Linked DNA regions of Homo sapiens: region 1 is linked to region 2. The links come from fine-mapping of genetic effects on gene expression. A gene starts in region 2. The other region holds a variant in brackets. All regions are shown on one strand. Distances are from middle to middle. Region 1 overlaps DCAF8 (DDB1 and CUL4 associated factor 8). Region 2 holds the start of COPA (coat protein complex I subunit alpha).

Region 1 (15,814 bases), 110 kb before region 2:
TCTGTCATTCAGGCTGGAGTGCAGTGGCACAATCTTGGCTCATTGCAACCTCTGACTCCTGAGCTCAAGTGATCCTCCTGCCTCAGCCTCTTGAGCAGCTGGGACTACACGCATGTACCACCATGCCTGGCTAATTTTTGTATTTTTTTTTTTAGAGACAGAGTTTTGCCATGTTGGCCAGGCTGGTCCCAAACTCCTGTCCTTAGGTGATCCACCCGCCTCACCTCCCAAAGTGTCGAGATTACAGGTGTGAGCCACTACACCTGACCATCATCTAACTTCTTTAAAACTTGATAATCTCTAAAATATGTAAAGTCACCCCTCAGAGACTGTTACATTAGAGAACAGAACATCTCCAAAGGCGTGTAAGATTTTTGGAAAACGGTAAAAAATTCAAGATAATAGTTAATGGATTCCTATAAAATTCGTAACTCTCCATAAAGGAGCACCTGGTAGTATACAATGCATCAGTCTTACAAACTGTCAAAGACACAAAAGAGCCACAAACTCACCTTACAAACTGATCTCGTCCACCCACTGCAAACTGGTGGGTATTGGCAGGATTCACATAGATCGTATACAGCCCCACTTTCTTCTCTTTCTCTTTTGTCACCACCAGTTTCCTTTAAGAGTAGAAAAGCACAGAAAGTTATATACTCCAAAAGATCCAAATGGTCATGGCAAAGGAGAGCCAAGAGAGTCACATGGCTAATAAGAAACCAAAGAGATTCTCATTTGGAAAGAAAGAATTGTTGTGTTTTCTCTGTTTGTTTTGTACGTAACAACAGGAAAAAAGCACATACATTTATTATATGGGACTTTGGGGATTGGGGAAAAAAATATGTAGTGAAGTCACTTTCTAGTGTTCCTTAAGAAGTATAAACTAAAGGTATATGAATGTACCATTCTTTAGGAAGCCTCAGTTTAGCTGCAGTCCAACACAGTAACAGCCAGTTATTAATCAGACAATACTACAGATACCTTCCTACCCTTTATTTATAAATATATCTTCCCTATCACCTGGGAACAAGGAGAGACGTGGAAGAAGAATCCCAGAAACAGTAGGCTAAAAAAGACCTTAAGGTCAGAGACTATTGCTCAGATTCCATTAAAATGTAACTTATGGCCAGGTATGGTGGCTCATGCCTGTAATCCCTACACTTTGGGAGACTGAGGCGGGTGGGTCACTTGAGGCCAGGAATTTGAGACCAGCCTGGCCAACATGGCGAGACCCCATCTCTACTGAAAATACAAAAATTAGCCAGGCGTGGTGGCGCATGCCTATCATCCCAGCTACTCAGGACAATCCCAGCTACTAAGGAGGCTGAGGGAAGAGAATCACTTGAGCCTGGTAGGTAGAGGCTGCAGTGAGCAGAGATCATGCCACGGTACTCCAGCCTGCGCAACAGAGCAAGACTGTCTCAAAAAAAAAAAAGTCACTTAAAACCCAACTTAAGCCAGGCACTGGCTCATGCCTATAATCCCAGCACTTTGGGAGGAACACTTGAGGCTAGGAGCTCAAGATCACCCTGGGCAACATAGCAAGACCCCATCTCTATAAAAAATTATTATAAAAAGCCGGGTGCGGTGGCTCACGCCTGTAATCCCAGCACTTTGGGAAGCCGAGGTGGGTGGATCATGAGGTCAGGAGTTCAAGATCAGCCTGGACAACACGGTGAAACCCCGTCTCTACCAAAAATAAAAAAATTAGCCGGGCGTGCTGGTATGCACCTGTAATCCCAGCTACTTGGGAGGCTGAGGCAGAAGAACTGCTTGAATCCAGAAGGCAGAGGTTCCAGTGGACCAAGATCGTGCCACTGCACTCCAGCCTGGGTGGCAGAGGGAGACTCTGTCTCAAAAAAAAAAAAAAAATTGTTATAAAAAATTAGCCAGTGTGGTGGCATGCACCTATAGTCCCAGCTGCTCAGGAGGCTGAGGTGTGAGGATTCCTTGAGTCCAGAAAGTTGAGGCTGCAGTGAGCCGTGGTCTTGCCACTGTACTTCTGCTTAGGTGACAGAGTGAGACCCTGTCTCAAAAAGTAAAAAAATAAAAAACCCAGCTTAAAATATGCACACTGAAAACTGATAAATTTTTCACTGAAGAAATCCAGAATAATCTGTCTAAAACAGCCATAATTTGTTCCAGGTTAAGGGTGGCATGAGGAATATTCTTCTCAGATCTAAGCATTCAATTAGTCAAATATGACATAATGAAGATTGGTAAATTTACAGCAAAGGAAAGACTTCAAGAAACTATAGGAAGAGGCTTGGCTTTAGTTTTTGTTTTTAAGTCTAAGGTTTTATTTATTTCTGATGCTATGGAAACAGAAAGAAATATAACCATGACAACAAGTTTCTTTGTAAAGAAATGATTTTAGCATCCTTTCTGCATAGCCAAAGTCACTTCAGCCTAGAACTGTTCTAGGCAAAGTGTTGAGATTTTACTTAGTATCTCTGCAGCTTTTCATTAAATGAATACAGAGGACCAGGTGTAGTGGCTCATGCCTATAATCCCAGCACTTTGGGAGACTGAGGTGGGAGGATCGTTTGAATCCAGGAGTTCAAGACCAGCCTAGGCAACATAGTGAGCTCCCATCTCTATTTATTTTAAAATTAAAAACAAACAAAAAAAATACAGAGGGCACTGAAAATGAATGTCATTAGGGGAAACCTCCATCCCCTAATGGTGTCCCCCACACATCTCAAAAACACAAGGCAGGAAACATGTCAAAAGAATAACAGCTTCAGGGACAAAACTAGCTAAGAGACTGCTCTAATATGAGTTTTAGACAGGGAAAGAGAGGAGGAGCTGATGCTGCTCCTTCCCACAGGACCATCTCATTTCCTTAGCAATTTGAAATTTCAGAAGGACAAGGTCAAACAAATACAAAAGTTACCATGTGGAAGCAAAATGAAGAAACTAAGGAATAGATTATGAAGTACTGGCTCCACAGTTATGTAATCCTGCTGAAGAGCTCAATCTTACTATGCCTCAACTTAATCCCATAAAACAAACATTTCTCCCTCCTGATGGGTAAATGCAGAGTACCTTGAACTCTGCAGGGGGCATGCAGAGGTGCTATAAAAATGATTATCATGGCAATAGGAGGAAAAAATGTTCACATTAGAGGAAACATTAAACAAATTCACCAAATTTTGCCTTAAAATTAATGAGCAAGTATGTCCCAGCAAAAAGGGAAAAATAATTACAGATGAGACCAAAGGATTTCTTTGAAGAATACCTCAAACTGGCTTCCACTGGCTAAAGGAATATTCCATCCACAGGTTCAAATCAAACTTTTTTCCTAAGATGTTAGTCAATTTCATTAGCTTTCAGAGACTTGGCTATCATCATATATACAAAAGAAAATCCCCCTTATGCCAACTTCACACAAAAATGCCTCTGACAAGATCATGCCACTGTACTCCAGCCTGAGCAAAAGAGTGAGACTGCACCTCAAAAAAAAAAAAAAATGCCTCTGACATAAGCAGATGTTCAGCTTTTCACCCCATGCCAGCCTGTAACACTACTTTAACCCTTACAACAAAAACTTTAAAGACTCACTGTCTTTATTACTCAAATCTAGATTTGGGCCTCCTTCTACTCTTCATTTTCTCCTTTACCCCTCTTTAGAGTCTATCCCACCTATCATTGCTTATGTTCAGATTCATGGTTAACTCTCAGCCAGACTTTCTGCCTATATAATTTCATTCTAAATTCAATAATCTGCCAAAGTCATTCGCTCTATTCATTACTTGCACCAGATTCAATTCCTGGTGGCCTAACAGTAGTTTCCCTCTGAACCTGATCCACAGGATAAGATCTCACTCTGTTTCACAACTCTTTAACACAGCATATTAAATAAACTTACTATCATTTTTTCCTTTTTTGCTCTTCCCTATGAAAAACTTGCTAATCTTCCATTACCATTACAGAACCCTGGAACTTTAGAACTGGAAATAACAAACATCATGTAGTTCAAAAGATTAAATGATTTCCTCAAAGTCAGATAACTACAAAGCTAGTACTAGAAGGCAGAACCCTTGTCATTTAGGCTTGTTCCATTTCCACTATAAATCTCCCAGTCTTTGTCCTCTTGAAGGTTATATAAACAAGCAACATATCTTTTCCCCAAGCCTAAAACATTTCTATCTTTTAAGCAGTTGTAGAAATTCTTCTACTATCCAAACAGCTTTTTCTGGACTTAGCTCTCCAAAAATAAGTCTAGTAATAATCAGCCTTCATGTTATATTCCCCAATATAAATTAATTTATATTTTACTTATGTCCTATGTAAATCATTGCCATCCCTTACTCAATACTGGTACTGACCTATAAGATCTGTTATAATAATTTTGGTTTTTTTTTTTGAGACAGTCTTGCTGTGTCACCCAGGCTGGAGTACAGTGGCATGATCTCAGCTCACTGCAACCTCCACCTCCTGGGCTCAAGCGATTCTCCTGTCTCAGCCTCCTGAGTAGCTGGGATTATAGGCATGTGCCACCACACACGGCTAATTTTTGTATTTTCAGTAGAGACGAGGTTTCACCATGTTAGCCAGGCTGGTCTCGAACTCCTGACCTCAAGTGATCCACAAAGTGCTGGGGTTACAGGCATGAGCCACTGCACCTGACCAAGATTTGTTATAATAATCTTTAAGACAAACAAGACAATAAACGATCTAGATATCTATCAATAAGGTAAAGGTTAAATAAACTGTGGTACACCAATGCTATGACATTTCTCTCATGGTTAACAACAAGGTAGCTTTTATGGTCCAACACAGAAAAATCTCCCACATTGTAACATGAAATAAGCAAACTGCAGAAACATACATATATGTTTATATATACATACAAGTATACTTATGGGGAGAAAGGAGAAAGTGTATATATGTATTTAGGTACAAAATGTATACAAAAGGGACTAAAAAGGTGTTCAAAATTACTTACAATGATTTTTTTTTTTTTTCTGAGATGGAGTTTTGCTCCGTCACTCAGGATGGAGTGCAGTGGCATGATCTCAGCTCACTGCAACCTCCACCTCCCAGGTTCAAGCGATTCTCCTGCCTCAGCCTCCTGAGTAGCTAGGGTTACAGGCACATGCCAACATGTCCAGCTAATTTTTGTATTTTTAGTAGAGGTGAGGTTTTGCCATGTTGGCTAGGCTGGTCTCAAACTCCTGACCTCAAGTGATCCACCTGCCTTGGCCTCCCAAAGTGCTGGGATTACAGGCGTGAGCCACCGTGCCCTGCCCACAATGGTTTTCAACAGCTAAAAAAATGGTGGGGCGGGGGTGACTGAGGGAGCATTTACATTTTGTCTGTATACTTTATTACTTGAATCTCTTAAACAAGAAGTATTTGTTTATTGTAAGAGCAATAAAAATGAAAAAAGAAACTAAAATAATTATAATTATAAGCTAAAACTTAATCAATTTCAGCCATGGTGTTAAACATTATGCTGAGGCATCACACACAAACACACACACACATACATACACGTACGTATATATATACATACATATATACGTGTGTGTATATAAATACATATGTGTGTATATGTGTGTACATATGTGTGTATATAAACATATATGTGTGTGTATATATGTGTACATGTGTATATGTGTGTGTATATATGTGTGTGTGTATGTGTGTGTGTGTGT[A/G]TATATATATATATCCTCACAGAAACTACTAGAGAGGGAAGGACGGAGGGAGGGAAAAAAATATGCCCATAGCAAGGCTGAAGAAAATGAGGTTCAGAAGGTTATGTAAGTCATAACTAGTAGTGCCTGATTTGAGATTTGACCTAGGTCTGCCTGGATCCAAACAAGATGTTGTGTTTTTTCTATGATACCACACAGTTAAAAAGGAATAAAATTTACCTATGAGTCTCAGATTCACATACAAATGAACTGTGATAAAACAGAACTCAACTACAGCTACCAGTATTTTTGTTCAAATTTTATGTTTGTATGTTTCTATAAATAACTAAATTAAAAATGTATTTAAATTTAAAATTTACAGGACTGTACCTCTACATGAGTCTGTGGAAGAATGTGCTTTCTGTGGGTAAGATGAATGATATCCAAGTGAATAAAGAGCAAAAGATCATCAAATTATTAAAGGCCACATATAACAAGTAAACTGTTTGAGAAATGAAGGTAGACTGAATAGTATTTCACTACTGAGAAAGAGAGGAAGTAAGGAATTCCCCTTAACCTTAAACTACCTCTTAACCATAGGCACAAAGGTACTATTCGGATGAACCAGAGTTAGGCATTACCAAGACATATGGAATATGTTCAAGGCTAAGAGATACAGTTCTGTAATGATATTACTGCTACACTTACGACGCTGGGCGGTCTTGTCTCAGGTCAATGGTGAAAACAACTGCATCTTCACCTGCAGATAAGAACGTACAGGGAGAGTCTGGTTCCAGTGCCAACTGAAGAAGAAAAAGGAAAAACATGAGGTTTCTAAATATTAGAATTAGAGGTCATCTAGTTCATTCCTATAACTTTGGGAAGGGCTGCACTTAAAATGTTCCAAAAAGAGAAATGTCTACCTTTTTGTCATAAAATCCCAGGAAAGGACATAATCTAAGCCCACTTACTCTTGTTCTATGCGAATTATTTATAGTTTTGTTTATTCTATAACTAGTCAAAGGACAGTTGATTTGCTATTTCAACTAAGTCCTCAAGAGATATGAACAGATAGCAAAGAAAAACATCAGCCATTAGAGTTCATTTTCTTTTTTTTCCAGTCAGGGTCTCACTTTACCACCCAGGCTGAAGTGCAGTGGCATGATCATGGCTCACTAAAGCCTCAACCTTGTGGGCTTAAGTGATCCTCCCACCTCAGCTGCCCAAGTAGCTGGGACTAGAGGCACAAGGCACTATACCTGGCTAATTTTTTCGCTTTTTTTTTGTTTGTTTTCCACAGATGGGGTCTTGCTATATTGCCCAGGCTGGTCTTTAACTGCTGGCCTCAAGCAGTCCTCCCACCTCAGCCTCCCAAAGTATTGGGATTACAGGCATAAGCCACCACACCCAGCAACAGTTCATTCTCGAATAAAATCAATTCCATACCCTTAAGTGCAGAGAGAAATGGTGTCCAACTTCATTCCTTACATCTTAGTTCCTTACAACTGAAAATCAGTTAACTAGTGGGTTAGGAGTAGACTTAAGAATCAAAGAAATAGGTAATTTTCACATATCCTGGGCCGCCTTGGCTAGAAAAGGATACTCCAGGTCCACCTATATTTTTGCTTAGGGTTTCTAAGAGAGTACCAACCTCTTTTCATGGCACAAAAGACCAACACCATGCCTACCTTAAAACTGGCAGCTCTTAACTCCTTGTTAGCTGCCACCATGGATTATTTGGCCTATATTCCCAGCTTTAAATAGGGCTTCCAGAAACAGTGCTATTTGTGAACTGAGAGTTTGAGCAGGTAAGCTGAAGCTCTCACACAAGAGGAATAAACCACTAGCACCTTGAAACTGTCAAAATACCCTAAAAAATCACAATAAATGTAAAAGGTTTAGAGGGCACAGGAGACCTCAAAGATCTCCAAACCAACTAGGGCTTAGCTTAGGGGCCAAATACTATGAATGCATGATCTAGGGACTTTTCAGATACTTGCCTTCCTAGGAGTTTAGGGTGGCTGCTTTTGCTCCTTTCTTAACCACAAATCTTAGGACTGAAAGAGGTGAGGCACATGACCACAACAAATGTGACACAATGGGCAGAGATAAGGGAGAACCTTGGCTGAGAACCACAGAGGATTTGGATTGCACAAATTTTGGAGCAAGGTCTTACTTACCTTGTGGGACGCTCCCTTGTGCTGGGCCACACGTTTTGTATTCTTGCAACACTGTGTGGCAGACAGTTCTGCTACTCGAACCTGCCCGTCACGGGCACACATGGCCAGAGTAGAATCACCACTGTTAGGAAGAAACTTGGCCTGGGGTGTTAAAAATGAAAAAAAGGACACACAAAAGAAATGAGAGAGGTAAACTTGAGAATAAAAAATACGATGATGACCTCAACTTACCCCCTTTTCTTACATGACAGCTGGAAACTTAGCTTTCCTACTCTTGTACAGCTGGCTAAGCCCAATTTCTTCCAGGAGTTAAAGGAAAGGGAGAGAAAAAACTTCCTTTGATGTAAGAGAGCATTTCAGTTGGCTCTGGAAGATTGAACTGGCACATGATAAGAGCTCAGATGAACTAGGACTGTATCTAGCAGAGGAGAAAAGGAATAGAGGAGGAAAAATCTACTTTGATTAAGAAAGTAAATATAAATTTGCTACAAAGAAAAAGGAAAATAGGGGGAATGTCAGGGAAGAAAAGAGAACACCCTTAGGATAAATGGCTGGTACCAGTACAGTAGATGGGGCCAAGGAGTAAAATCTTTCCAGAATAACAACAGTATAAGCTAACATTTATCAAATGTTTATTAAGTACCAGTCACAGTTCTAACTGCTTAGCTTCTATTGTTACTTAATCCTCATAACCCTATGTGTTATTAGTCCCATTTTACAGATAAACTGAAGACAAAGGTAAAATAACTTGGCCAAGATCACTGAGCTAGTAAGCAGAAGGGCTAGGATTTGAACTCAGGCAGTTTGGTTCAAGAGCCTGTGCTTATACTACACTGCCTCCTACCAGCACACATTTAATAAGCTGCATGCACCCTACCTATGAGGCTTCCAACAGTCCACATGCTCAAGGAATCTAGGGTTGCCAAGAGTCTTTCAGTGTATTTAGGTCATTAGGGGAGCCAAAGTAGGGCCATGTCCCGATATGTAATTCCTACAATAACTCACTATCAGCTCCCAATCCATGCTGCAGTTCAGATTTCTCTAACTCATGCCTGATTCTCTCAGTTGCTATTATGCTCCCTTGCCTCACCTGGAACACATTACTTTTGTGGCCACTCTCAAAGTCCAGTACTGGCTGCCGCCGTACCCAATCCCACACCACCACCTTCAGGTCATCGCTGCCACTGGCCAGCCAGGTGCCGCGCTGGTTAAAGTGCAGGGTATTGACACAACCAGTATGGCCCTCAAGCCCATGCTGCAGGCGGAAACGCTGCACAAAGACTCTTGCCCCACAGGCCTCATAGACAAAGCGGGCACTTGAACCCAGCTCCCGCTCCCGAAGGGCAGGGAGGGCTTGCCAGCGAGGTCGGGGTAGAGCTGATGTTTCTGAGGACACCCAGTCCTCTAGGGCCCGCTCATCATCTGATGAGTCCTGGTCACGGTTAGCCCGCTTGCGCTGTACACGGCGCCGAGGCTGCTCTTCTTCCTCCTCTTCTTCCTCCTCTTCCTCTTCCTCTGAGCGGTCATGGACTCGATTTTCATCATTAATGGAGTAATGACCAGTGTCCTCCATGCTGTCAGAGTCCTTATCTTCACCTGAGCTCTCTGTGTCTGTGCCTCGACTTTCTGTGCTGGTGCGGTTGGGGCCACCATCATCCCCAGTCAAGCTCAAACTCAGGTCTGAGGCCTCCACTTCAATGCCTGAGGATGTCTCCCTCCCCTCTTCAGCTCCAGACATCTCCTCTGGACTGCTAGACAGGCTTCCTGCATGTTAGTGAGGAAGGAGTAGAGGAGAGGGAAAAATAAGAAAACAGGATAGTGACCACCTTAGTCTAAGAAATCTTCACATCAAAAGACCAAAAAATGAACTTTGGTCCAAGTGTTTTCATTACAAATAATTACAGAGAGTACCCTCTGAGGGGAAATCTTGTAAAGGACAAGAAATTGAAAAGATTAAGATCAAATCCACACACATAAAATACTTCAACAAAAGCAAAGAATCTCAGGACAATCTAAGATTATATTAAGTTCTCAAGAGGCAAAACATTGGCATATTGTATAAAAGTGTGCCTGATACATCTACCATTGGCTCTGTTGTATTGGATGGGCATTTATTAAGTTATAGCAAATAATTAAACAGAATATAAAAAGAAGAGCCAACTCCAGCAAGAGCTAGCATAGCCATCTTCTTAGCGAAAGACGGAAACCAGCTGATAAAAATCACTCTTGACTTATGGATGTGGTGTTGCACCATTTCCTACTTTAAGAAAGTATCAGGCCAGGCACGGTGGCTCACGCCTGTAATCCCAGCACTTTGGGAGGCCGAGGCACGTGGATCACGAGGTTAGGAGATCGAGACCATCCTGGCTAACATGGTGAAACCCCGTCTCTACTAAAAATACAAAAAATTAGCCGGGCGCCTGTAGTCCCAGCTACTCAGGAGGATGAGGCAGTAGAATGGCATGAACCCAGGAGGCAGAGCTTGCAGTGAGCCAAAGTCGCACCACTGCACTCTAGCCTGGGCGACAAAGCGAGACTCCATCTCAAAAAAAAGAAAGTACCACTACACCTTCTGTCACCTAAATCCTAAGCTTCTTCCCCACCTAAGTTTCTAAAATTCACTAAGAAAGCAAGCTGAAGGGGTAAGTGGGAATTGTGATCATTTGAGTGGGTTCTTGCTCACCTTTTGCTAGTAAATATATTTTGACTTACTTCCATTAGTTTGAATTTTTTAATATAATTCTTAGTCACACATTTTTAGTCTCTCTATTGAGACAGTTTTATTAGGAAGCATATATAAAATTGATAAAAAGCTGGGCTACTATAGTGGTGCCTAAGACGAAAGTTCAGTATATTCTAGGTCTGCTATGCTGATAGTTAAATAACTAGGTCACTTTTATCGATCTTATCTCCTATAACTACATACTGCATTCTCTTAACTCACAACAGTCAAGTCAATTCCAATGAGAACTTGAGGAATGTTCTAAAGCCAATACAACCACAACTTCCAACCTAAGTCAAGGTGTGAAGAAAAAAGGGGAGAATAAAGATTTTAAATGCTGCTCATGGGCCTCCTTTCCTCAGATGGCTATAAATTTTATCCGCCAGAAGTAAAAGCTGTCAGGAAAGGCAGACCATCCAGTATGAGCTATTCAACTCCAATACCACACTGATGTTTAAGGATTCAAAGGTGGAGCACCTTATTGCCTAGTCATGTGGATTAGAGCAGTAATTTGTGAAGAGCTCTGAAGCAATGTACTCTTAAGCAAAACCCAATACTGAAAAAAGATCAACAATACAAGTGCTTTGATTCAAGCAGTAACAGAAGCCCAGAAGACATAAACAGTTCTTGCAGGCTGGGCGCGGTGGCTAACACCTGTAATCCCAGCGCTTTGGGAGGCCAAGGCGGGTGGATCACCTAAGGTCAGGAGTTCAAGACCAGCCCGGCTAACATGGTGAAACCCCCATTTCTACTAGAAATACAAAAAATTAGCCGGGCGTGGTGGCATGTGCCTGTAATCCCAGCTACTTGGGAGGCTGAGGCAGAAGAATCGCTTGAACCTGGGAGGTGGAGGCTGCAGTGAGCCGAGATTGTGCCACCGTACTCCAGCTTGGTAACAAGAGCAAAACTCTGTCTCAAAAAAAAAAAAAAAAGCCTCAACTAAGAGCACAGTATAAAACAACTGGGCTAGGGGCTGGAAGAAAAAGTTATGAAGTACAGAAATTTGAACCCAAGGACCACATTTGCTGAGCCTGTTATATATGCTACGAAAGTTTAGCAGTTACAGTTTTTTGAAATGCAGCTGGGCTTGAGCTTGGGAGTGGTGAGCAGGGACTGAAACACCAACCTAACAGGTCTGTAGAAAAGAAAAAATAAAACACCAAAACATCTAGTGTTTATTGTTAAAATTATGAGTAACAAATATAGACAATTTTGGAGGCCTTACCACATTAACATAAGGGCCAGAGGGTATCACAAGCTCATCAAGAAGTCCCCAACAGTAAATCACCAAGATCTAGAGTAGGGGTTTGCAAATTTTTTCTGTAAAGGGCCAGATAGTAAAAACCTTAGGCTTTGCAGACCATACGGAGCTCCACCACAACTACTCAACTCCAGTATGTAGAACAAAAGCAACTCATAGACACTACATAAACGAACAGGCATGACTGTATTCCAATAAAACTTTACAAAAACAAGTGGCAGGCTGGATTTGGCCTGCAATTTATAGTTTGCCAATCCTTGACCTAGCTAATGGTCAAGCTCCAAATCAATAGTATACTTTAACTCCTCTAGAACCCTGTGCCTTTCAACTAAACCCAGTGAAAAATATGAACCACTTTCCTTTACAAAAGATGAATGAATGGCAGTGATAAGAACATATGGAGCAATAAAAAAGCATGTTGAAAATCTCACTTATCCTTCCTCCAATCACATCAACTAGAATTTAGCCTGTTATCCTGACCTTCAAGGTGCTAAGGAATGCTGGACTCTGTGCTGCCCAACTATATCCATTTAAAGGCGGCTTCTCTAATTTAAAAGTTGGCTCAGAGGTGAAGAGCTGGTTAAATAACCCAGGTGGTAGTTATACTCTATTAGAATTTTTATATTCTGCCTTCAAATCTGCCCTAAAGCCAGTGATTTGACACTTGGCAGCACTGGTCCTGAAAAGAAGGAGGAGGGAAAGGAAGGAAGGAAGGAAATAAATGGAAAGAAGGGAGGGGAAGTAAGGAAAGGAAATAAGGAGGGGAAAGATGTCCCACTCCTAGTTGGGTTGTAACTTCATCCCTTATGTAATCACCTTTTTTTTTTTTTTTTTTAAAAAGACGGGGTCTCGCTATGTTGCCCAGGCTGGTCTCAAGCTCCTGGGCTCAAGCGATCTGCCTGTCTCAGCCTCCCAAAGTGCTGAGATTATAGGCATGAGCCACCATGCCCAGCCATGTAATCTCTCTATCAAACTACTACTTACTGTGGAAAGGGACCTCTCAATATAACTGGGAAGCTCATCTTCCCTAAAATTCCCTTGTTCCTACTAGCCATTAGATTTTATTTTTCTCCTTTACTAACAGCATTTCCTAGGTTCTGCCCATCCTTATAGCTTTATAGAACTCCAAACCACTTGACCTCTTAGAAGTACAGCTCTGTTATTGATATTTTGAAAATGATCAGATAAAATCAGAAGAAGCAAAAGCATAATATAGTCCAAGGTGTTTCCTGTGTAGTTTCCTAAACTCAGAACAACACAGGAAAGTTTCCCTCTCTCCACTAAAATCCAGGCCTCCACTCTATCTTGCAGGGAGGAGGACAACCTCAGTTGATAGTAAAAATAGCTTCACCTTCATTTTGGCCCCTTACCATTAGCTAAGTCTGTTCTGCCATCTGTGCTGCTCCCTTTGCTGGACATCTTGAATGATGTTTGCTGTAGCCAGCCTGGGTTTGGGAGAGGAAGAAACCAAAACAATTAGGAAACCACCTGGGAAAGAAGACAATAGGGACAAGGAGATTTAACAATGTACAGGTTTTATCATTTTTATAAAAATGATTTGTGTATGCATGCTTAACAGGTCTTCTCAGCTTGTGAAATTTTTTCTTCCTTATGTTTTCTTCCCTATGTTTAAAATCCATATAATGATATATTTTTGGGGAGGTCAAGTGCCATCTCTTTACTTCACTCACTGAGTAACTGGCAGTGATTTTTCAGATGCGAAAGTGGGAACTAAAATAAAACCTGGAACAGGAGGCACATATCAAATGACAGGTACTGCAAGCCAAGAGTCTCAACTCAATACATAAAGCTAACTTCAGCATTGCCCCCTAGGCAAGAATCTTCCAATGTAAATAAGTGACATATGTATCCTCAAACTCTGTACAACACTTGTTTTCACAACATAAAGAGGTGGGTCAGATTCTGAGTATCATTTTACACACAAATCAACAGAAATCAACCTCTTGGGGGAAGAGATTGAGCTTTCTGTTCACTCAGATGACTAACTTCAAACCTATTATTATTATTCTTTCTTTTTTTTTTTTTGAGACAGAGTCTCATTCTGTCGCCCAGGCTGGAATGCAGTGGCGCTATCTAGGCTCACTGCAAGCTCTGCCTCCCGGGTTCACACCATTCTCCTGCCTCAGCCTCCCAAGTAGCTGGGACTACAGGCGCCTGCCACCATGCCCACCTTTCTGTATTTTTAGTAGAGATGGGGTTTCACTGTGTTAGCCAGGATGGTCTCGATCTCCCGAGTGATCCGCCCGCCTCGGCCTCCCAAAGTGCTGGGATTACAGGCATGAGCCACCACGCCCAGCCCAACTAACTTCAAACTTATTAAAGGCACAGATACTAAGGATTATAGAGCTGAAACTAGAAATCAGGAGCACCCTATCCCTAGGAAAGAAGCTTAAGTTGTTTTGTTTCCCTTAGGACTAACAGTCAGAGTCTCTAAGCACAAAGACAAAGGTGGGGAAGAAAAAGGCAACATTTCCATTAAACCATCTCATCCCATTTCATATAATGGCAAACACTGTTTCACCTAACAGCACCAGCTTTCACCAGACTCATCTTTCCTTAACAAGGAATCAGGGTATCTAACTCACTTCCTTTTATGCCACTATAAAACATTCATATTTTTTTCAGAGCCTCACTGCCACCTCCAGTAAATTCCAAAGAGCAAAGAATAATATTATTCAGACCAGAATTTTATTAAGCCCTTTCAGTGACTTGGACAAAAGGCACTAGTAAAAGACAAAGTATAATTATGACCCCAGTCCTTGTACCCAGGCACACTGGCCTCTAATCTTTCAACAGCCCTTTCATTCCCATGACAATTATTCCAGAAGCAGCCTCATCCTTATCTTTTCCTCCGCTACCCTCTATAGAAATCTAAGCTGCTTCATTAAAAGTATCCTCTGTCAAAAGACAGTAGCCCAAAGATTGTTCATAATAGGCCAAGGTGGGAATAGAAATACTGCAAGACTGGGGCTGAAGCTGACTGAACTTCAGGAAGGGACACCTGGAAGGGTGATGATGAAAGACAATGGCAACAAAAAACAGATATGTGAAGCAACATGAAGAAAAATAGTGAGAAGCTGTTTGCAATGCATTTTGTTTTCCTCATTTTTGAGGTAGACAGTTTTGTATAGCATTCCTCACACAGCACTTGTTTTTCCCTCTCAACAGTCCTTGTTTATATTCTTTAGAATAGGAGCCTATCTTCTCCATCTAGAGTTTAAAATTATATTAATTCCTATCAAGTGGGGAAAATGTACTACTTTGTTAAGATTAATCCCAGCACTTTGGGAGGCCGAGGAGGGCAGATCACCTGAGGTCAGGAGTTCGAGACCAGCCTGAGCAACATGGAGAAACCCTGTCTCTACTAAAAATACAAAATTAGCTGGGCATGGTGGCACATGCCTGTAATCCCAGCTACTAGGGAGGGTGAGGCAGGGGAATTGCTTGAACCTGGGAGGCGGAGGTTGTGGTGAGCCGAGATCGTGCCATTGCACCCCATCCAGCCTGGGCAACAAGAGCAAACTCCGTCTCAAAAAAAAAAATTAAAAAAAACTTATAAACTAAGGTAATAAGCAGACCAGTGTAACATGAAGAACAGATCTGATGTTTTCCCACCTCCATAATCAAAACTCTTTACCATACGTTTCACCCCACTATTATCCACTCCCAGAGAATTCAAAAGCAGCTGCAGAGAACCTCTCTCAAAACCAAGCATCAACTCCTACAGGAGCCCAGACTGCCTGAACTTTTGACTCATAATTGCTCTAGAAAATACATGTGCACAGATGATAAAAGTAAGTAGAATTAAATGTCAAAATTTCTGCAGAAGGATACTCTAGAGCAGTGGTCTCCAAACTTTGATTATGAACCTATATGAGTGAAAACTTTGAGCAGGAACCTGATGCTCACAGGTGTGGCATGCACCTGTAATCACAGCTACTCAGAAGGCTGAGAAAGGACTGCTTGAGCTCAGGAATTCAAGACCAGC
Region 2 (15,814 bases):
ATTTACCTATTCTGGACATTTCATAAGTGGAAGATAATTTCTTTTCCAAAATATTAGTCATTTTGGGAAAACTTTTTCTTAATTAACACCCAGTTTTTCCTTTTTAAACAGATTATAAGAATCCCAAGTTAACCATTCTTGATACTCAATGTTCATCACTATAAATAACAAATACAAAAATACTATAATGAGGTGATATCCTTATGGGCTTTTGAGATCTGTCAGGTGGTTTGAGTTTTGATTGCCCCAGGATGTGGTGCCTAAAAACTAGAAAACAGAAAGAAATGTCCTTCCTATAATTCTAATAGCTCTTTTCTCTGTAGGCAGCTGTCACTCTTTACTCCCATCACCTAAGTTCTGCGGTATAATCACAATATATAACTTCTTGAAGTTGCTTATGAAAAGACTTTACCTTTTTATGAATTAAATTTCACTGGTTCGGTTTGACACATAGACTTAATGAAAACAACTAAAGGAAGTAAACAGAGGAAATTTTGATTTATTTTTATAGGTTGCTAGTCTCTGGCTCTAACTTTTGCTATTATGATAGTCAGTTGTCTTTAAAGAATTGCCTATATTCTGTCTGCTTCCTCATTTCACACTAAGGCCTTCCAAATTAAGCAATTCAAAGGTTATTTCTCAATCTTGATCTTATTCTGAACACTTTCTCCTTCCCAAAATTCTCTTCTTCCTTGGCATCCAAGAGGCTTCTTCTCCCTCTTGGTTCATCTCGAACCCCTCGAATCACTGTTTCCCATACTAACTCTACTTCCTCTCTCTCCCTTAAATGATGGTCTGTCTTCTTATTCAACGTACTCCTTGAGCAATATCTTCTACTGCTTCTCCTTTGGCTCCTCCCTTCATGACGACAAATCACAAATATATTTCTAGCACAGACACCTCAACTAGACTGTCCCTTAGGTCCCTCAAAATCACCAGAGACAAGATGGAATTCATTATCCATTCTCTTCCACTCCAGAAAACTATCTCCTCCTGATTTTCCTTTCCTAGTTAATGACACCCCCTTTACCCAGTGACCTAAACTAGAAGCCTGAAAGTCAGCTCATTTATTTCTCCTTATTGGCCCTTATTTCTCCTTATTGGCCATCTCATTTATTTCTCCTTATTGGCCATCACCCAACAGACACACTGATTCATTTCCTTAAATTCTCACATCCATCTCCTTCTCTCCATTTCAAATGCTACTACCTAAGCTCAGGTTTCCTAACTGGTATTTTTGCCTCCTGTCTTGCCCAAATCATCCAATCTTTTCTTTAATTACCACCAAGTAATCATTTTAAAAACATATAAATCTGGTATCACTCCTGTATTTAAGTTCCTCAAATGGCTCCTAGTTATCTGCATGATAACATCTAAACTCCTGAGCGCCACAAACAGGTACTCCATGATCTGGCCCCTCTCATCTTCTGCCCCTTCTCTCACCATTTCTCCAGGTTTTCTCCATACAAAACCAATAACAGCTGCCCTGTATCTAGCTGTGTCATGCTTTTTGTCTTTGCACCTATACTGCTCTTTCCTATTTCACTGTGAATATCTCTCTATTATATTGCTTACCAAACTGTACATGCTATTACTTGGATATATGTTTATCTTCTGTATTAGAATAAAAGCTCCTTGAAAACAGAAGCCATTTCTTATTTATTTTTGAATTCCCTAAAAAGAAAACAGTGTCTGGTACACAGTAAGCATTCAATAAATGTTTGCTGAGTAAGTTCTCCGGATAATGTTGTCAAAGGCCTGAGCTCTGTATGAATGAAATTTCCTGTCTTTCAGTTCCTTTCATGATTCCCAAACCTTCCCACATCCTCTTTCCTTTATTCTCAGTTATGACAGACCCTCTGTACCTTAATCTTATAGTCATCTCCTCCAGAGACGAACAGTGGCTGCTGCTTATGGAAGTCAATGCCTCGCACTGGACCTGGTGGAGAAGGCAGGCAATGTATGTTAGACAGAGCTATCCTTTCTAATCTCTAAGGTGATTCCTATTCAGGATTTTTCAGTTCTATCATTTCCACATTCTTTAATCATAGAGGAATCCATGTCAAACAAGGCTTAAAATACCCCAGGATATTATAAATACTTATACTCCTTTAACTTCCTCCTAGAAATATCTCACCATCATGTTCATCAAACTTGTCAATGAGAGTGCACATCCGATAGTCCCATAACTGGATGACCCCATTATGTAAACTAGTCAGGATCCAAGGTCTTTTGGGGTGAAAGCTGAGCCCTGAAAAAAATAGAAAATGATACAATGAGCTAACTAAGCCCCATGATGTCACCTTCTGTCAATTCTGATAAGAAAAAGAAACATCAAGGTTAATCCTAGGTTCATTCATTCGACATGCTTGATGATTTTTTACTGGATGCCAGACATCGTGAATTTTATGTTTGGTACTAGATTTTTGTCATATTCCTTTACATATTCTTGGGCTTTGCTCTAGGATACAATTAAGTTACTTGGAATCAGTTGATCCTTTCAAGGCTTGCTTTTAGGTTTTATTACAGAGGGGCTACAGCAGCCTTCATTCTAGGCTTAATCTGGAACCACTATTAAAGCAATAGCCATCTGAGGTCTCTATTTGAAGCCCTGTAATATTAGGAAGTCTTTCCTTTCTGGCAAGTAGGAACACAAACTAGTCCCAGTTCACTAGTGTGAACTCTGGGGATTGCTCTGCCTTCTCCTTTCCAGTGGTCCTTTTTCAGGTTTTGAATAGTTTTCTCACATGCAGATCAGTACTCAAACAAAGACCTGAGAAGACATCCTGCAGATCTCTAGTGCTCTCTCTCTGCAGCCCCCTCTTCTCCGGTATTTTGCCCAACAAAATCTAGCCATCTTTGCTTCCCCACACTCTAAATTTATGTCTCCTCAGAAAGACCAAGGGATTCCCCTCTTCACTGAAGCCTAAAAACTCTCTAGGCAGTAATCTACGACAATCACAGGACTCACCTTGTTTATTTGCCTTCTCTGGAGAATTATTTTCCTGCACTGCCTGTTGCCCAACATCTGTGAGCAATGTATGAACCTTTGTTTCATACATTTTGTTCAGTTGTATAGTTAAGGTGGGAAGGTAAATCTGGCTCTTGTTATTCTATCATGACTGGAAATGGAAGTCCCCAGAGGTAACAACTACTAACAGTTTGAAGTGTATCCTTTCAGATTTTTAATGCAGTTACACATAGACATAGGCTTTAGTATTTTATGAAAGTGGGGATCACGTTATGATGTTGTTCTGCAAACTTCTTCCTCACTTAACTATATAATATGGATCTCATGGAAGTACATATAAACATAACCTCATTCTTTTTAACTACAAGGGACAAATGTACTACACTTATATTATTCTAACAGGCATTTTGTCCGCCAATTTTTGGCTATCAGAAGAGCCTACTGAAGATACTTCTACACATAATCTAGCCTATTTGCATTATTACTGCCCTAGGCTAAAGACCTGTGAGATTGCTCAGGAATAGAATATGTGCACTTAACATTTTAGTACATATAGTTTAAATGTAAAAACACTGTATCAATATACAGTCTCATGAAGTTTATGGAGGTGCCCATTTTGCACACAGGCTGCTATCAGCTATTTGTTGTTTTGTTTTATAAATCTAAGACCCTCCCCCCAAAAAAGTAACTTAACTTTTTTTTTCTTGCATTTCTTTCATTACTAGTGAGGTGGAACTATTTTAATTATTTATTGAACATTTACAATTTTTCTTCTAAATTGTCTATTTTTCCATTAGGTTCTTTTTTTTAATTATGATATATAAGTACACTCAACAATGGATGTTTGCCCTCAAATATTATGACATCTTTGTTTTTCCTTCTGTACTGCCCAGCAAGAAATTAGGAGCAGAAAAGAAAACTGAAAGATTATGAAGACCCATTTCACATTTCACCTATACAGGTCTCAGAAATTCTTAATGGTACCCATCTTTCAAGGTCAAGTTTCCCAAGAGACTTAGAAACTGCTCAGAATATATTCACACATTGATAACAACCTCCAGTTTTTGAGCTACTGAGTCTACACCAGGCGCTGTAATAAATACACTCCATATACTTTCTCATTTTAATACTCTCTATAAAAGACGATTTTACAGATGAGGAAATACAGACTTAGAGACATTAAGTAAGTCATCCAAGTCACAGCTTGTTAGTGGATGTCTCAGGATTCCAAGGCAAGCCCATCTGACTTCAAAGACCAAGTTCCTAACCACTTTGTTACGCTGCATCTCACTAAATATTCTAGATACTATTTTTTCCAGGTCTTCGGAGACCTTACTTCTCTGACTTTCACATTCTAACGTTCTGAGGCTAATACTGCGATCTCAGTATTTGCCCTCCACCCCCAACGACCCACACTCGAGCTCTAGAGCTGCCGTACTTAGCAAATAAAAATACGAGATTTCCAGATAAATTTGAACTTCTGGTAAGCAACGACAGACTAAAAAACTATTCATTGTTTACCTGAAATTCAAATTTAACTGGGTATCCTGCATTTTATCTGGCAACTCTATCAAGTTGAGACTTTATTGGGGTTATAAGCCTCAAGTACTATTTCCGGGTAGTAAATAAAGCCGAATGGAGGCACTGATGTTGAGATGCTGCAGCCAAGGCCTCCTTAAGTGAGGTTGCCACTACTCGTCTCCAAAAAGGCTACTGACTCGGGTGCGAGTAACAGAGATCGAGACTCAGTTCCCAGGGCCACTCCATATAACACAGTCATCAAAAAGCCAACAGATCACAGGGCCTTTGGAGCAGAACAACACAAATCGGGAGCACAGCCAAGAGAGAAAGGGGGAAGAAAGAATAGGGAGGGGGTCTAAGGAATCCCCTGCAGTGTGGGAGCCACTTTATAGGTAAATCGAAGCCCAAGGACACACCAAAGAAGAGGGGACTGGAGAACCGCTAGCCAGGCCCAACCTCTCTCCCACCCTCCGTCTTCCTCCGGGTCCGTCTGGTGGGCCCATTTCGACCAACACCTCTACCCATTTTCTCTTCCCCGGTGTCAGCGCCGCTCCTGACATCCAACCTCCATGTTCCCCCTTTTATTCTCCACTACCTTTGACCCGCGCGCTCTTGGTCTCGAATTTGGTTAACATCTCTCAGGTCTCCGACTCCGATGTCTTAATCCGAGCCCCGACACACCCTGCTGCCCTTCGGACGCCTCCACGTCAGCGACCCTCTCCCGCGGTTTCCGGAAGCGCCTGGAAACACGAACTTCCGGTCTCTTAGGCTCCGGGCCACAGAGACGGTGTCAGTGGTAGCCTAGAGAGGCCGCTAACAGACAGGAGCCGAACGGGGGCTTCCGCTCAGCAGAGAGGCAAGATGGCTACGGCAGGGGGTGGCTCTGGGGCTGACCCGGGAAGTCGGGGTCTCCTTCGCCTTCTGTCTTTCTGCGTCCTACTAGCAGGTGAGGCCTCCCCGCCCGTGAGCTCCGTTCTCTAAGGGGAACTCTCGGATCGGCCCCGCCGCGACCGCCACTGTCTCCCTTCTGGTTCCTGCTGCCCCTCTGTCCCCCCACCCTGTAAATCCTCTTTCTTTTTCGTTCCCACGACAGAAGTTCCCCCTTTGCCTGGACCTGAAGGTCCCTTCTCCCCCGCAGCACGTCGTGTCGCTTCACTCCCTTCTCTAGGCCTCTTCCTGGACTTCGAGCCTGACCCTCTCCCACTTTGTCCAGATGTCTCGTTTTTCCCACAACCCCAGCCACCCACCCCACAGTCGAAAGGAACAGGTGTGAAAGTTAGCTTTCTTCCTCGCGTTTAGACTTTTTGAGACGAAAGCAATCTTGTTCTGTGGGTGCTGTGCGGCGCTTAAAAGGTGGATTTCTTATTTCTTCCTCTGTTGATTACATCCTAAGTCTGTGTCCCCCTGCCTTGCCTCAGGTTTTTTTTTTTTTTTTTTTTTTAATCAGTAAAGCAAGAATAAGGTAGGATATGGGTACTCTTAACTGTGAAGACCCTGAAGTAACAATTCAAGGAACTTTTGGCATTTATAATGTACTTAAGTGTTTGCTGATACGCGTTCATTTACTGATACATGGCTTTTTAGTTGGTCAAGCCCTAAAATGCAAATGCCTGTATATAACTATGACTGTGCCTTCCCCCAATTCACATTGTTTTTAAGGATCCTCAAAGGAGAAACTACAGCTGCCCCACACTGTGGGCACACAAATGACCTGCTGATGTTAAATTAACTGACCCGTGTATGTCATAAGGTTTCTCTCAATTCTGTTCACACTCTTGGAAAAATGCCTCAGAAAGTTTTCTTAGCCCAGCACCTGTGTATTAACCAATTAGTAATATACATACAGGATATACAAGCAGAAGTGTGATCACCTGTGCAACCAGAATCTGGCAAATCTAAGGTCAAACACCTTTCCTTTGACCAAGTTTTCTCTCTTTTAGTGTCACTGTCAATGGCGCTACATGGACTTTGTAATAACCCTTTGAGGCACATAGCTGGGTGCCATGTAGAACATGTATCTGTTACGATAAGTGTGTGCCCAAGAAATCAGAAGAATGGACTTTAATCTCATTTTAGAAAGTATGATATTAAATGATTTACCCAAGCCATACTTCAGGTTAATGACACGATAGAAGCTAGTACCTGTGTCTCTCAAATTTTTCTAACACTTTTTATCTTCCGATCAGGTTTGTGCAGGGGAAACTCAGTGGAGAGGAAGATATATATCCCCTTAAATAAAACAGCTCCCTGTGTTCGCCTGCTCAACGCCACTCATCAGATTGGCTGCCAGTGTGAGTTGAGATGGATTCATGTTTGTGGACATTGATATTTGTCTGTGCCCTAGATACTAAGTAACATCCATGTCCTGCTTAGGAGATTTGACACTTATATTGGACTGTATGTAGGCAGTTACAGATAACCGTCTGTCAAGCTAGGCAAGATAATTAATAAGAACTAACATTTAGTAAATGCTGCATACCAAGCTTTTTACATGTGCATCTCATACAACCCCAACCACAACCCCACAAAATAGGTCTTACTGTTATTGTCACTTTATAAATGATGAAACTAAAACTTAAAGAAGTTGAGTAACTTTCCCAAGATCATACTGGTAATAAGTGATGATGCCAGGATCTGGTGGCCCGAGCACTAAGCTGAGAGACCTTTTTTTTTTGACACGGAGTTTCACTCTTGTCCCCCAGGCTGGAGTGCAATGGCACGATCTCGGCTCACGGTGACCTCTGCCTTCTAGGTTCAAGTGATTCTCCTGCCTCAGCCTCTTGAGTAGCTGGGATTACATGCACCTGCCACCATGCCCAGCTAATTTTTGTATTTTTAGTAGAGATGGTGTTTCACCATGTTGGCCAGGCTGGTCTCGAACTCTTGACCTCAAGTGATCCACCCACCTTGGCCTCCCAAAATGCTGGGATTACAGGCGTGAGCCACCGCACCCAGCCGAGCCAGCACTCTTAACCACCCTATTATACTGTTTTTTAAGGAGAAAAAAGTCTCATATTCTATGGTGTCCAGTTATCACTTGCACTCTGAACTTTTTGGAACCAAAATGGGCTAAAGGCAATGAACTATCTGAAGAGAAGGCACTGAAAATGCCAAATAGGCTGGGCGCAGTGGCACATGCCTGTAATCCCAGCACTTCAGGAGGTCAAGGCGGGTGGATCACTTGAGGTCAGGAGTTTGAGACCAATCTGCCAGCATGGTGAAACCCCCCCATCTCTACTAAAAATACAAAAATTAGCCGGCTGGCTGCTATGGCATGCCTGTAGTCCTAGCTTCTCGGGAGGCGGAAGCAGAAGAATCCCTTGAGCCCAGGAGGCGGAGGTTGCAGTGAGCTGAGATTGTGCCACCATACTCCAGTATAGGTGACAGAGTGAGACACTGTCTGAAAAAAAAAAAAAAAAAAAAAAAGAAAATGCTGAATAATTGCAAGAGGAATTAGTGAAGCATTCTATTTATCCTTTTTTAAAACTTTTTTTCCTTAAATTCAACTGACAGGCCGTTTATTTTCACACTTTGTGTGTTCCAAAAGAAGGTTCCATGACACTGTGGCTTTAAAAACTATCAAAATCATAGGGCAGGAAAAGTAGTAATCTAAAGGCTAACCTGCTGTCTTCAGATTTTGTTTCCCATGGACAATAGCTCTGTCAGAATGTAGTTTTGCAGATAAGCAGGAAACTTGGGGTCTGATACTGGCTTCTTCATCATCAAATTGATCACCTCTGAATTTCAGTTTACCCCTGGAATAATGGTTGGAGTACTTGCATAAAGCTGAAAGTCAAATACCTCTTAATAGTTGTTTATTGATGACGCTAGGTAAATAGGGTGGTCTCAAAAGTGCTGTATAATTTCCTGAAGCCTTCTTCCCATTTGATAAGAGAAAACTGGGACACTGAGAAGTGAAGGACTTGTTCGTGGAAGCAGTTACTACTTTTTTAGCCATCTTTCCCTGAGCTATAGTATCTGTTAATTGTCCCATGTCCCTGCTATACAAAGCACTGGGAGTAGGTTGACTGGTTCCAAACAGCCCCAAATAAAGTTTTTGTTGTACTTAGTTTCTTTTTTTTTTTTTTGAGATGCAGTCTCGCCCTCTCGCCCAGGCTGGAGTGCAATGGCACAATCTCAGCTCACTGCAACTTCCTCCTCCCAGGTTAAAGCAATTCTCCTGTCTCAGCTTCTTGAATAGCTGGGATTACAGGCGCGTGCCACCGTGCCCAGCTAATTTTTTGTATCTTTAGTAGAGGCGGGGCTTCACCATGTTGGCCAGGCTGGTCTCGAACCCCTGACCTCGTGATCTGCCCGCCTTGGCCTCCCAAAGTGCTGGGATTACAGGCATGAGCCACCATGCCCAGCCCTCTGGACTTAGTTTCTGAACTGGTTTGTAGGTAGAAGAGAGCTAGGTCCAGGGTGGGCTGAGATCAGACTGCTGGTCTTGCTGGAACCTCACTATAAAGTACAGAAGGCCAGGACCCCAACCTCTTGTAACTAGGCTCTAAGAAAACTCCTTTGGGAATAAGTCATTCTACTCTATGTTCTTAAAACAGCTCTGTAGGAAGCAAAGCCTCTAGAGGTAAAGCCACGTGCCAGTACAGAGAAACAAGAGGGGGTAAGCGGGACTGTGGCCACTTCCTCATTAAGATCTTGGTTCCTTTTCAACCTACTTATTTCCAAATCTTACTTCGTCATATCTGTCTTTTCTGAGCAGGCTCCGCCCTTTTTAATTAGTGTAGCTAACATGATAAAACTAAGGAGAAAAAAGTGATACCCAGATTTGATTTCTGATTATAATACTCTGCTTCTCTTAGACGCTTTAAAGTTCTCAAAGGGGGCTTTAAATAGGTTTCTTTTCCCTCCCTCCCTCCTTCTATCCTTTCTTCCTTCTTTCGTCTGTCCCCACAGTATGAGATGAATAGAGGTAGAAAACCTCATTGAAGGCGCAGAGAAAATAAGCAAGTTACTTAAGACTACACCATTACTAGTTGGAACCCAGATTAGAATCCAGGTTTTTTTCAGTCCAGTATCATAGTTTGTCTTCCTGTCCTCGCTGGAGTTGAAGTTTTGGGGTGTGTGTGTGTGTGTGTCAGAGTCTCACTATGTCACCCAGGCTGGAGTGCTGTGGCACAATCTCAGCTCACTGCAGCCTCCGCCTCCCAGGTTCAAGCAATTCTCCTGCCTCAGCCTTCTGAGTAGCTAGCATTACAGGTGTGCACCATCACACTTGGCTAATTTTTGTATTTTTAGTAGAGATGGGGTTTCGCCATGTTGGCCAGGCTGGTCTCAAACTCCTGACCTCAAGTGATCCACCCACCCACTTCGGCCTCCCAAAGTACTGGGATTACAGGCATGAGCCACTGTGCCCGGCCGAAGTTATATATGTTTTAGTTGCCACACTATCTGTTCCTTTTCCCATGTTTTAAATGCTGTGGCAAGGGCCGGGCATGGTGGCTCACTCCTGTAACCCTAGCACTTTGGGAGGCTGAGTGGGCATTTAAAGTGATGCTGATATACAGCCAGGGCTGAGAACTACTGGTCTAAAATAATTGATGAATAACATATCCAATTTTCTGTAGGGAGAAGACTCACAGGGAGACCCTAGGATATCTCCACACAGATCACTGGGGACTTAAGGAGTATTACCTAATGCCTTGAATTATGTAGAATTCAAAGTATTCTGGACTCTGGGTCATCCATCCTCTAATACAGTGCTTCCCAATCTTTATCATGTCATGAGACACATAGAAAATGTTATTTGTATAGCATCCTGGCACATAGAGAAATGGGTGATATTTTCAGGGCATCCTGGGGTAAATGATAAGTAGGCTCCTGGCTGGAGGTGACTTTGGAAACCCTAGGTTTCCTGGAATGAGGAGAACCAATGAGAGCACATCTCTGATCCATTCGAGGCTTATCAATTGGGAAGCTCTGTTTTAGAAACCTCAGAGTTCTTGACTAACCTCATCTAAAACCGGCCAGAAGCAAGTAAAGTCATTCCCAAAAAGGGCAAAAGGAATGACGATCCAGGAAAGCTCCTGAGGCCAAGGGCATGTATGCATGTGTTTTTACAAAGGAAGATTCAAAGCTAAAACCCTGAGCTAGAGATTTAGTGGCATTTCCTAGAGAAAATATAGGTTTGAAAACTTTGGTGTCTATTGTTGTAGAATCTTATGTATATGGCTAAATAAGGTTGAGGGCAGAGGGCAAAAAAATGAAGTTCACAGAACCTTTCTGGCATATAATGAGTCCTCTTGTGCTCTTTTATATTCCATTCCCTCCTGATAACCTTCAGATGGAGCTGGGGCAACAGCTTTTCAGTTCAAATCTAGAGGTGCCTGTATTCACCCAAATATGTTGTGACATCTTTAGGGGATAAAAGATACGCAGAATCAGTGAGGCAAAGTCAGAATTGTTAACTATGGGAGCTTTAATTTGACTCATTCTGTCCTGGCAGCTTCAATTAGTGGAGACACAGGGGTTATCCACGTAGTAGAGAAAGAGGAGGACCTACAGTGGGTATTGACTGATGGCCCCAACCCCCCTTACATGGTTCTGCTGGAGAGCAAGCATTTTACCAGGTAAGAACTAGATGTATCTGCTGGGAAAACATCCATAGAGGGAAAGTTTCAGTGAACAGTCCTCACACTTATTAGTGAAAACTTCCCTTGGCTGCCCTGGTCTGGTCAGGGGAGAGGGCAGGGTGGTCCTCAGAAGGAAAGGTGTACCATCAAAAGAAATGATCTTGAGCTTAGGGCTAAATTTCACCTACCTGTCCCTGAGTAACCCTGGGCATCCCTCCCCTCCCTCCCTGGGGTCCTTACTCACTAAAGCTCTACTTTTTAGAGCAGATCATTGTCCAGACTCAGAATTTAGAGACTGAAAGGGAAGAAATAAGTCAACAGTTTGATTCCCCTAGTTCCCCATTTGTTTCCATCCTGCAGGCAGAATGTCAGGCTGTCTGATACCTTCCTGTGTTCCTTCATGGAATTCCTTTCCTATTCCAGGGATTTAATGGAGAAGCTGAAAGGGAGAACCAGCCGAATTGCTGGTCTTGCAGTGTCCTTGACCAAGCCCAGTCCTGCCTCAGGCTTCTCTCCTAGTGTACAGTGCCCAAATGATGGGTTTGGTAAGTGTCCCAAAGGATCAGGAGAGCCTACTGTCACCTAAGGCTCACTGTTGCTTCGGTCTTACGTCTTTGTGAGGGATGTATATGTGTTTGTGTCTGTGTGTAGTGTCAGTAACTGACTCCCAAACAGGGGGTAGTGTTTATTTGTCTTTGCTGCTCATCCCTTCCCTCTCCTGCTTCCCCTTCCTTTGCCTTACCTGGCATTATCTCTTTTTGTCACGTGTTCACATCCCTAATCTTACAGCCTAAGACTCCCTGATACCATTGTCTTTCTATTTTAGTGTGGATGGTAATAGACTTCATGCCTACTTCTTTGAGTCACCACCTCCTTTTGAACTCTTAGTCCCAACTGAAAGATTCTTCTGCCGTCACCTGGTTCCTAAGTACTTGGTGTCCCAGTAACCAGTCCCCCTATTCCCCATCCTTCCCTTCAGGTGTTTACTCCAATTCCTATGGGCCAGAGTTTGCTCACTGCAGAGAAATACAGTGGAATTCGCTGGGCAATGGTTTGGCTTATGAAGACTTTAGTTTCCCCATCTTTCTTCTTGAAGATGAAAATGAAACCAAAGTCATCAAGCAGGTAATGACACTGCCAGCTCCTAGCAATTCCAGTTAGAAAGAAGATTATTTTTCTAGCCAGGTGTGGTGGTGTGTGCACGTAGTCCCAGCCACCCGGGAGGCTGAGACAGGAGGATCACTTGAGGCCGGGAGGCAGAGGTTTCAGTGAGCTGAGATGGCACCATTGCACTCCAGCCTGGGTGACAGAGCAAGGCCCTGTGTCACAAAAAAAAAAAAAAAAAAAGGATTATTTTATAGGCTCTCCTATTTGGAGGGTGGCTCATTCTTCTGGTACACCTGCTGAAAGACGGTTGCTCCAAAAAGAACCAAGACGTTAGTTCTTCTCACATTCTTTCCCCACATTTTGCTCCTACCTGATATTACAGCATTAAAGCCTTTTAGACTAGAAGAAAATATAAAGAATATCTGAAAGAGTAATATGAAACAAGGTACACAGCCCAGGTTAAGAACCACTAGTATCGTTAAAAAAAAAAGCATTGGATTAGAGATTGAGAAATTCAATTTGGTAATTTCTGAGCTTCTTTTTAGCTCTAATATGCCTTAATTCTGGTCTAGTATTTCCATTTTGACTCATAGAGTAGTTAAGAGATTTGTCCAAAGTTGTATGGTGAGTTGATCTCCAAGCTGTGTCATATCTGATTTCCTATCTCTAGTTTGGTGCTCTTTGTATCAGACCACACTGAATCTTTTCAGTGGCTGAAGCTTCAAATTGGGCCAGGCCATCTGGAATGGGATAGTTTCATCTCCAGCTAAACCACTGAGTCTGCAACCCTTTGTAACTCTTGATGAGTTTTTTTCTTTGACCTTATAGATCCTATGGTGGTTCTAGGATAACTATAGCTCAGGGATAAATGTCTCCGAAAAGGGTGTGGCTCCATCCCAAAAGGATGGAACTGGGCCCTCCTCCTTCTGGGATGTAAGGGAGGGCCTCCACAAACTAGCTGTCTCAGTGGGGTCCATCTCCCCTTTCAGTGCTATCAAGATCACAACCTGAGTCAGAATGGCTCAGCACCAACCTTCCCACTATGTGCCATGCAGCTCTTTTCACACATGCATGCTGTCATCAGCACTGCCACCTGCATGCGGCGCAGCTCCATCCAAAGCACCTTCAGCATCAACCCAGGTAGGGCAGATCCGAACCATGAGGGTAATGGAATAAGGGGCAGAGGGAGAGTGGAACCAGGCCAGGGAATGTTAGAGAGACTGTAATAGGGAAGGAGTAGACACCATGAAGGAGCTCTGCATGGGAGAACTAGAAACAATTCTGAAAAATTTAGGCAGCTTGTTCCTAAAGTGGATAGTGGCAGAGAAGCCAACCTCGGACTGTTGGAAGTAGAGAAAACGACTTAGAGTCCGTGGGGCACTGGTCAGAGATTTCCAATGTTGCCTTTATAGCTACCTTCTCCTTTAGCCTTGTTGATCTCTCATTGTTTGTGTCCTGCTTAGAAATCGTCTGTGACCCCCTGTCTGATTACAATGTGTGGAGCATGCTAAAGCCTATAAATACAACTGGGACATTAAAGCCTGACGACAGGGTTGTGGTTGCTGCCACCCGGGTGAGTGTTGGCTTCTGATCAGGATGGGCAGGGCTGGCACAAAAAGAGCTGGTAGGCCCCGCTCTAGCATATCAGATTTCAAAGTTGCTAAATTGGGAAGCCTCAAATGGGGAGGAATCTGGGCTGTGGGACTCCTGGGTTGTCTCCATTGCCACAGGACAGGTATATTCTCTTGACTGGAGCAAGAAAGGAGGTTTGGGGCCAGTTTTAAAGTATATATCCCCTGACTTTTCTTCTGTTGTACCTAGCTGGATAGTCGTTCCTTTTTCTGGAATGTGGCCCCAGGGGCTGAAAGCGCAGTGGCTTCCTTTGTCACCCAGCTGGCTGCTGCTGAAGCTTTGCAAAAGGCACCTGATGTGACCACCCTGCCCCGCAATGTCATGTTTGTCTTCTTTCAAGGGGTAAGGGCTCTTTGGCTGGGGTGCAATGGCAGGGAAGAAAGAGGATAGTAAAGATGAGAGTGGCTACTGGTTGGAGAAGACCTCAGCACTTGACCTAAGTTGTTAACCAGCACAGAGCTTCTGGATGTGTCTACATGTGTCTCCCCTTTAGATTCCTCCATTTTAGGAAGCTTAGATTCCTTCTTTTTAGGAAGCTTTTACACCCTGAATTGGTATGTAACCAGCCCCCTCTTTCCCCCACTGATAAGATATATTGGAGGCGGCCTTTTACTTTTATTCTCTGGACTCCTTTACTGCTATCTCCATCCAGGAGCCGTTAGGCTCCTGACTCTCATCACTAGGACCACAGCAGAATAAGGGAACAGCATCTGTGGCTGAGTCACTGGAGGTGGGGGACCGTTAAGAATCAGACACATAATAGCTGATGTTCATCTTAGACCTTTACTAAGGCTACTTTCCCCATTTCTGGGCTTCAGAAGTCTTGTAATACATATGAGGGATAGTCACAGCTGGGAGGTGGGGCCAAGAGAAGCCGAAAGTCACATGACTGTAAGCTGACTAGCAGTTGAGGTGACCTGAGATAGTCGTCTTACCTACAGCTTTGATGATCTGGCCGCCTTCGAGGCTCTCCTAACCCTTTGGAATCTCTGTTCCCCCTCCCACCTACCTCCATCTCTCAGGAAACTTTTGACTACATTGGCAGCTCGAGGATGGTCTACGATATGGAGAAGGGCAAGTTTCCCGTGCAGTTAGAGAATGTTGACTCATTTGTGGAGCTGGGACAGGTATGTGGCATGTCCCCCAGCCCCTTCCTTTTTAATTAAATCTTCCTCCTTTGTTGTTCTGCGGTCTTAACTGCAGGAACCACCGCCTCTTCCCTTGACTTCTATCCCCTAGGCATGGCCCAGAACAGGAGACTGATTCTAAGTGTTGTTTCTTCATCCTCCCCCCAGGTGGCCTTAAGAACTTCATTAGAGCTTTGGATGCACACAGATCCTGTTTCTCAGAAAAATGAGTCTGTACGGAACCAGGTAACCTGAGCATCTCCCCTCATTTCCTATTCCTACAGCTCAGAATCCAGACCCCAACCCCTGCCCTGTTTCCACCAACCCCCAGGGCCTGTGAGACAGGGTAAGAGACAGGATTGGATTGGGTGTTGGCCAAAGGATGAACACCACAGCTGTTGTTGCTGCTGGGAAGAATCAGGAACTCAGTGACATTCCATTGGTTCCCTGGACTGGGTAGTTCTCTGATCATTTGTTGCCTAGCAGACTACCACTGCCCATTAAGGATAGGTGAGTGACTAGCTCCCTTCTTGCCTTGCTGCCCCATGGATCCAATTGTCAAGGCTGCTCTACCCAAGTCCTGGCTGTGTCACACTCGCTGCCCAACTTGTCCTCCACTTTCCTCATTGCTTGTTCAAAACCTTCCCTTCCCTCTAGGTCCACCTTTAGGCCTGCTTTTTTCCAGGTGGTCCTCTTTCTGCAATTCCAGCCTTCAGCATCATCCCTGCTCTGGACTCCTGTAGCATTTAAAGAATTGGTTATCTGTTTGGCATTCAGCACGCAGTTTTCTATTATTATTTGCTCCCTTCAATTCTGCACAATAAATAATAAGTGAAGCATCCACTGAGGATAAAGCAGAGTCTTGA

The links. PIP is the estimated chance that this variant, and not a neighbour inherited with it, causes the effect.
Region 1: its variant is fine-mapped to the expression of COPA in whole blood (TOPMed, PIP above 0.99).

The regions. Positions count from the first base shown.
Region 1 is chr1:160,230,785-160,246,598 of GRCh38, forward strand. It overlaps DCAF8 (DDB1 and CUL4 associated factor 8), which reads right to left. Exons shown (of 14, transcript NM_015726.4): 3 at 13,176-13,250; 4 at 8,913-9,586; 5 at 7,823-7,963; 6 at 6,351-6,445; 7 at 513-623. The coding sequence starts at 13,224. Among named protein-coding and RNA genes, the nearest start is that of DCAF8-DT, 23 kb to the right of the region's middle. The variant A/G (reference allele first, on the strand shown) is at 5,664.
Region 2 is chr1:160,338,044-160,353,857 of GRCh38, forward strand. It overlaps COPA (coat protein complex I subunit alpha), which reads right to left and starts at 5,207. Exons shown (of 33, transcript NM_004371.4): 1 at 5,088-5,207; 2 at 2,138-2,251; 3 at 1,866-1,939. The coding sequence starts at 5,127. It overlaps NCSTN (nicastrin), which reads left to right and starts at 5,340. Exons shown (of 17, transcript NM_015331.3): 1 at 5,340-5,438; 2 at 6,679-6,783; 3 at 10,956-11,079; 4 at 11,506-11,627; 5 at 12,062-12,207; 6 at 13,179-13,329; 7 at 13,653-13,762; 8 at 14,011-14,163; 9 at 14,844-14,948; 10 at 15,117-15,194. The coding sequence starts at 5,354. RefSeq lists enhancers at 5,140-6,087, 5,360-5,409, 8,775-8,824.